2 linked regions of the Homo sapiens genome follow. The protein of the gene in region 1 interacts with the protein of each later gene in a pairwise test. Each region holds a gene or a part of one and is shown in the gene's direction. Other genes may lie near its edges. The genes, in order: LSAMP and DELE1.

What was found.
Region 2: the proteins of LSAMP (region 1) and DELE1 interact in a two-hybrid assay, tested with the Homo sapiens proteins (one large-scale study listed by IntAct).

What each region holds. Positions count from the first base shown.
Region 1 is NC_000003.12:115,801,571-115,805,504, reverse strand, and holds the end of LSAMP (limbic system-associated membrane protein isoform 1 preproprotein), read left to right. Parts: 3' UTR 1-3,131; downstream 3,132-3,934.
Region 2 is NC_000005.10:141,930,065-141,933,884, forward strand, and holds part of DELE1 (death ligand signal enhancer precursor), read left to right. Parts: coding exon 1-10; intron 11-113; coding exon 114-210; intron 211-886; coding exon of another isoform or gene 887-993; exon of another isoform or gene 994-1,216; intron 1,217-3,194; coding exon 3,195-3,337; intron 3,338-3,820.

The sequences.
Region 1 (3,934 bases):
TGTAAATCAATGTAAATCACTAGTTTATGTACATAATATAAACTATGTAAACTTCATTTTTCATGCAGTGCCCAACTACTGCTAAGGTTTACTATGATTCTTAAGGAAAAAAAAATCAAATAAAAATAAATAAAAACTGAAACGTTTCACAGTTCAGAATCGGAAGAATTACGACTAAAGCTCCAAATATGAGGTTGCCTTAGCCAAAGGAAGCAGACCCACAGGAACAGTTCAAGGTTTATATCCTGCTCAAGTCACCTCTTTGGTCTTTCAGGATCTAAGTGGAGATTGTCCCAACTGTTGCTGTAGTTGTCTCACCCGACCCCAAAGCAAGGGAAATAGAGGGAAAGGTTTTAAGGGCTATATGTCTGCTGTATCCACTCCCAGCTATCTTCTTTTTACTCCTTTCTCACCATCTAAGATGTCTTATTTAAATAGCTCCAAGGAAGTGACCTAAACCTTGATGAGCAAAATATTACTCAGTTTTTATTTTCCATTCAACAAAAGCAGTGGGAAAGCTTGCCATCTGGATTCTAAGAAATTGTGCAATATAAAAAATGTTATATCCTCGAGAAATATCTTGCTGAGTCACCCTAGGAAATAACTACCTTTTATTTATCTGGTAGCCTAATGTTTCCACACATTTATCCTGAATATTGCAAGTGAGGGACTGAATCATTTTTAATTGGGAGTTATCTTTCTCAGGCATGTTCTCTTGGAGTCTTTTTGAAGTGCCTGACACGTGTAACAGGATGACATATATATCATTCCTACAATATGAACAACTGTTACATAAAAAATTATCAAGGAGATGATTTCAGGAAACAAGTGAACTTTCTGCAAAGACTTATAAAAATTTTAGGTCAAATTAACTTCAGGCTTTAAATGCACTAATCTACCTAAGAGAAAAAAAAAGAAAAAAAACAGGAAGGAGTTTTAAGGGCTCATGTGCCTGTTGTATCAACCCCCAAGTGTCTTCTTGGTACTGCTTCCTCATCATCTAAGATAAACTGACAACTTTAAAGTGAGGTAGAAGGTGTATTGAATTGGGAGTCAGGAGAATTGGGTTCTAACCCCAAGTTCAGCCACAAATAAAGCTGTGAGACATTGGCAAGTCATTTAACTTTCCTGAGTCTTGGTTTTCTCATCCTGAAAGTGAGGGATTCGGCTGACGTCTCTAAAATCTCTTTCAACTCTAACCTTTATTCTGAATAAGAATTTAATATTCACTTAGTGCTGTGCCCAGCACTGTTTGTAAACAGCAGCTGTTTGTTATCTCTAGTTTGGTCTCTGTATTCTCATCACTTCTCAGAACTATCATTCTACCGTCTTCATTTCTAAACCCAAAACTGCTAGAATACAGGGACTCTGGACTGGGTCTGTAAATTTTTTCTGATCAAAACTTTATAGCAGTGTAGAGAAGGGACACATTCAAATTACACTAAGGACATTGACATAGCTGGGGTTGTTTCCTTGTTTATATTATAAAACCTAAATGTGGAACTATATTCTAATAATCTTTCATAGGAAGGAAAATAGCCAGACTGGGTATTATGCATGTAACAAATGAGGACATTGTGCATAAGAAAGGAAACATTAGTTTTCTGTCATCCTGGGCCAAGTACCTCATTACAGTAAATGTGTGTCTTTGGAAACTCTTTGCTTGTGCTGATGGCGGTAAGCATGGGGTCCCAGGCAGGTTCAAAGGCTGAACTGTAAGAAATGGGCAAGACAATACATTTTGTTTTGGAAGGAATTTCTCATGGGATAAGTTTCCCAAAGCTTGAATTATAGGCTATGAAATAAAGCAAATAGATGGAGAGAAAACAAGTATTGTTTTCAAAAAGTACAAGTCAATTCTATTTAAAGAAGACAAGCTGAAAATAAAACAAAAATAAACACAATTTAGGAGGTTACAGAGTTGAAGACAGTATGAATTGTTGTGAAGGCCAAAATCAAATGTGAAAGTTAGGTTCTCTGAGAAAAGGGTAAGCAGAAAGGATGATTTCTCAAGCAATTAATAAGGAATTATTTTCTTGTGCCATGTTCTAGATGCATTGAGCACAGATCCTCTTGTCCTAAGCTGTCCTAGAGGCTCAGGTTAGCATCTATCCAAAGTTGTCCTTTGATTTTATTGTCTGAAAGAACAGAAGGCATCAGAGTTTCCAGTCACTGAAGAGTAGGGTTTGTTCATCACTTCCCAGCAATCACATCACTTTGTGTAGGTAAGGATATATGATGTGCTTAGATTACTTATGAAGCTCTCTCTAAGTGGGAGAATGACCTGTCCATGGGACAACTCCCCGTTTTCATGGTCATTTCAGAAGTACCTCTTTTTGGGCAGTGCTCCTGGATCTACTTCTACAGCCACATTCTACTCTGCACAATCCTCCCTATGTAAAGCCAGGCACAGTACAAATATGCTTCTTGCAAGTGAAGAAAACCCATGGAAGTCCTAGCTTCATGGCACGCTGCAGCAATCCCAAGCTACCAGGAGCCTCTTTTGAACCCACTTCCCTAAGTCTTTGCTCTTCACCAGAGAATGGAAATTGTTCATCCTGGTGAACTGTGGCCAAGTTCTGCTCCCTAAGTATTTACTTGGAGTAGGGAGGTTAAAGGGAAGAAATTCAGGGGGAGAGAAGCAAAAGAGAACACTTCCAACTCCCTCCCCCATCTCCCAATGCTCCCCACCTTCCTTATCACTGCTCTACTGAAGGGTGTATAAATCCTGCTCTTGGTTAGAATTCTCCTTATTAACAGTGTTATATACATATAAATATATATATAAATATATTCCTTTTTTCAGCCCTGTAGACATGAACTGATCTTCCCTTGAAGATACAAACACATGGCCATTTTTTGTTTGGGATTTTTTGTTTTTCAAGGTTTTTCATTTTTGTTTATTAGGTGGATTTTTTTCCCTGGGTACTAGCTCTGTGAAGGAGATAAAAAGCGCAATGTGTGTTAAAAAAAAAAAATTAAAATTAAAATGAAAAAAAGCTTTTTTTCTTTTCTTTTTAAATGTATTTAAATTCTGTTTCTCTCTTCTGTTACTTTACACGTATGAATGCTCTGCTCTTCTGTGATCTTAAAACAAAATGAAATAAACGTGAAAAGGAGATGTGTCTTCATTGACCTGTCAGTGATCTTGTGGTTGACTGCACTGCTTCTTGGAGGTTTTCATGAATAAAAGAGAAAATGAAGCCAATGATATGAATATCATGTAAGGGAAGGGCAGAAATAATACTGAAAAATCACTTGAAGCTCTTCTAACAATGCCTCGTCTGTCACAGAAAGGAACGTGGTATTTACAAGAATTTTCTCCACCTAAGCAAAGAGATTCTGTAAACGTGTTTTTTTTTTCTTTTTCTTTTTTTCCCTTAAGGGACTGAAAGAAATAAGTATAAATTACCACTGAAATGCTATAAATAATTAAGACACTTATGATTGTTAGACTTCAGTGCAACCTTGGGTTATGATACCAAAAACATTAGAAAATATGCTCTTTCTTCAAAGTCTCCATAGTAGTGGTTATCTTTAAGGGTTAGTTTTAATGAGATGCTACCTCATAGCAGTAGAAGGAACTAAGGTACCTTCTACAGCCACCTGTTATTTCTACTTACAAAAATGCAGTTTGTTTTCTATTACTGCTGAGAGCTATGATCTTCACGAAATGTTTCCTGAATCTCTATAGAAGCCCTATTGCATTACACAGGACACATAGAAAGAAAATGAGAAATAAGCAATCTATAGTCCAAAGATCATACATCAGGAGTGACTGGGAGCGTCTGAAGTGCTACTCTTAGGAGTCAAATTGACTTTGAAACACCTCCATGAGAATTAATCCCAAGTTAGGCGGCTGGGGGATGGAATGGAGGAATGAGCACTCATGATGGGCTTCAATAATGGGAAAAGGATCAAACAGAACCAAAAT
Region 2 (3,820 bases), on another chromosome or scaffold:
TGGTGAAAAGGTATTATCCAGATTTGGCCACCTGGATCCCCATAACATTCTCTTGGGCAGGTGGCAATCCTGGTAAACCATCCCTTGGTGAGTCTTTTATATTTCTTTCCCAGGAACAAGATAAATCAAAAACTCTTTCCCTTGAGGAGGCTGTGACTTCCATTCAGCAGCTCTTCCAGCTCAGTGTTTCCATCGCTTTCAACTTCCTGGGTAACCAAATGGACCCTGCCCCAAGGCAGGAGGGTGGGAAAATGGAAAGGGTATGGGGTAGCTCAGATATAGTCAAGATAGGGAGTGGCTTAAACGAGAGATTTTATTTTCTCCCAGGTAGGTAGACCAAATCTGGCATGGCAGGGACCCATTCTTATGCAGATGTGTCCTGCCATTTTTAAAACTGGCTCCCATCTTGAGGCGCAGTTTGGCAATTCCAGCTCCTGCCCTCCTGTCCGTATTCTAGCCAGCTGGTCGGGGCAAGGTAGGGAAGCTAAAGGATCACTCCTTCCCTTTAATCTAGACGTTGCACAAATCCTTGTCCAGAATATAGGCACATGGCCACACCTCGCCACAGAGGAGACTAGTTACTGTGTATGAAGGAAAAAATAATCTTGGAGGGCACGTAGCATTCTCTGCCACACTTAGGAAAGAACAGGCTCCTGGGGTTTGGAGCAGATCCTCGATGTGTGAACAGGAACCTCTTAACCCTCATGTGGGGACTCCAAATACCCTTCCACCATTTGCCCTGTTCTTTGCAGTAACTTGGCTCATTTTAGGCCTTCTAATGCGGAGACTCAGACTCCCCACAGCATCTATTGGGGTCTAGTGGGCAGATAGGCAAGAGGCTGGGATTCATTCACAACAAATTTGTTGAGCATTTACCTTTTGCCAGTTCCTGTTTTAGGTACTGGGGATACAGTGATTTACAAGACAAAGTCCTTATTCTCAGGGAGCAGAAAAACAATAATTGAGAAACAAAAAGAGAATTTCAGATGTTGATAGATGTTATGAAGAAAATAAAGGAATGTGTTAGTGACTTGAGCAAGGAGCAGTTTTTGATTTAGAAGTCCTCACTGAGCAGAAGACCTTTGATCTAAGACCTGTCACAAAGACAGCCACTTTTGTTTCAATCTGGAGAAAGAGCTTTCCAAGTGGCGGGAACAGTAAGCGCGAAAATCCTGAGGCAGGATTGGATTTTGATTGCTAGAGGAACAAAAGAAAGGTGAGTGTGGCTGGAGCTTAGAGATCTTGGGAAGGGCGGAAGGAGATAAAGCCAGAAAAGCAGGCAGGGGTCAGATCAGGTGAGGTCTTCTGAGCCACAGTAAAGAGTGTGGATTTTCTAAGTGAGACAGGAAGTCTTTGGAGGGCTTTAAGCAGGAGCAGGAAAGGGGGCAGCCACATGATCTGATGTACTTTTCCAAAGATCTCTCTGGCTGCCATGTAGACAGACATGGATTGTAGGATTGCCGGGGGGAAAAAGGAGACGAGGCAGGCGCTGTTGGTGACGGCTGAACAAAACATGTCAGTGGCATGGTCTAGATGAGAGAAAGAAGAGAGCAAGAAGAGTAGATGGATCTGGTTATATTAATGAGCCAGGTGGGAAAGAGGAGGATGGTGGGATCCTTTGCACTCTTGAGTCTTCTACCCAAGGGCAGAGGGCTCTGTCAACCCTGGACAGTGAGTTTTCAGGCAGCAAGGAGGCAACTTTATTTAATTCACTGCTGGCTGAATGGAACCTGGTTTCTCCCTCATGAGCTTTATGTGATTTTGATGGGCAAAGAGTCTCTTCTCAGAATTTACTTGCCCATCCCTTCATTCATATATTCATTTATTCAGCAAGCGCTTGGCATGGTGGCAGAACGCGAAAGGAGCATAAGCCATAATCATGTTTTGCATTTGTATGGCGCCTTCACCCTAGGCAAAATTATTTCTTCTACATTCTTTTTCTGCTTCTGCCTCCAGGATTTTACAGTCTAATTGAGGAGACAGGACTTGTACTTTTGAAACGGTTTAGTTTGTAGAAAAAGGCTTGGTATATTAAGTAAGTGCCAAAAAAGTGTTTAAGCCTGAGTGTGGTCCGAAGGTTTAGAGCAGACACAGGATGGGAGCTTTGATGGTGGAGGCGGAAAGAAAGATCCCAGGCAGGAGAGACAATTGAAGCAAAGGCCTTGAGTTGAGAATTGGCCGTGCCCTCATCCTTTCCTGTTTCCTTTTTGTTTGGGCAATGAAAAGAGCATGGACTTTGGGGTTGGATGTGCCTGCATTCAGGTCTTGACACTGCTGTATTACCGCTCCCAATTTCTTCATGAAACAAGATTAACAGTATCACTTGTATCAGTTAGGGTTTGTTGGTTATGAGCAACCTAAACCCACTCTGGCTAACTTAAACATAAAAGGAATCTATTGGGATCTATTGACCTGCCAAGCCTCAGAAAGGACAGGAATCAGGGAAGCTTCAGAGACCTAAGAGGCAGCAGCTGATAGTATCTTCAGAGTGCTGCTGTCAGAATAAACCTACAAGGGCTGTTTTCTCTCCTTGTCCCAACCAGATCAAGGTTCAGATTCCTGAGAAAGAACCTCCGTGGTTAGGAAGAACACAAGCACATTGATTGACAGCACTAGGGGAGGTGTTGTTCCCAATGGGAAATCTAGATGCTACTACCAAGAGAAGGAGGAATGGTTTATAGTAGGGCAGAACCCACTGCTGTCCATGGCAAACCAGTGAAATATTTAGAAGATAGAAATATATGCAAAGGCCAGGCACAGTGGCTCACGCCTGTAATCCCGACACTTTGGGAGGCCGAGGCAGGTGGATCACCTGAGATCAAGAGTTTGAGACAAGCCTGGCCAACATGGTGAAACCCCATCTCTACTAAAAATACAAAAGTTAGCCAGGCATGGGGTCAGGCATCTGTAAACCCAGCTACTTGGGAGGCTGAGGCAGGAGAATCGTTTGAACTCAGGAGGTGGAGGTTGTAGTGAGCTGAGATTGCGCCACTGCATTCCAGCCTGGGCAACAGAGCAAGACTCCATCTCAAAAAAAAAAAAAAAAAATATATATATATATATATATATATGTAAAGTGTCTGGCACAAAAAAAGAAAGGGAGGAGGATCAGATGAGGAGTCTGTAGGTACCTGGCTGAGGGTGTGGGGAAGTTCACTGAGGAAGCTGTGTTTGTGCCCTGTGCCTTCTTACAGGAACAGAGAACATGAAGAGTGGCGACCACACGGCAGCCTTTTCTTACTTCCAGAAAGCTGCAGCCCGCGGCTACAGCAAAGCGCAGTACAATGCGGGCTTGTGTCATGAGCATGGCAGAGGCACCCCCAGGGACATTAGCAAGGTATTCCCCTGCCCCCAAGCCTGCCTTCTGTGCTGGGCTGCTGAGATTGATGTCTAGAAATGAGCAGTGGGCAGGGATGGGGGAAAGTTTGGCTTCTTTTCTCCACTTGGTTCTAGCCCAGCTGCGAAGGAAAAATAAGAAAGAAGCTCCTAACTTCCAGGAATTTAGACTCAAAATTCAGGGAGGGCAGGGATTTTGCCTTTCTTCTTTGCAACTACATCCTCAGCCTAGAATAGCATCTTGATGAATGGATTAATTAATTTTTAAAAAGTGGGATAAGAACACAAAGAGGTTATATATAAGAATGTATTTCGTAGAGTTGTATGTGAAGGCAAAAAAACCCAAAAAAACCTGAAAGTTTCTTCAATGGAAAACTGGTTAATTACATCTATTTGGGCCTTAAAATGATGTGCTAGATCTGTATGTCAGGGAAAGACATTCATGGTGTACTATTAAAGTTAAAAAAATAGGTTATAAAGTAGT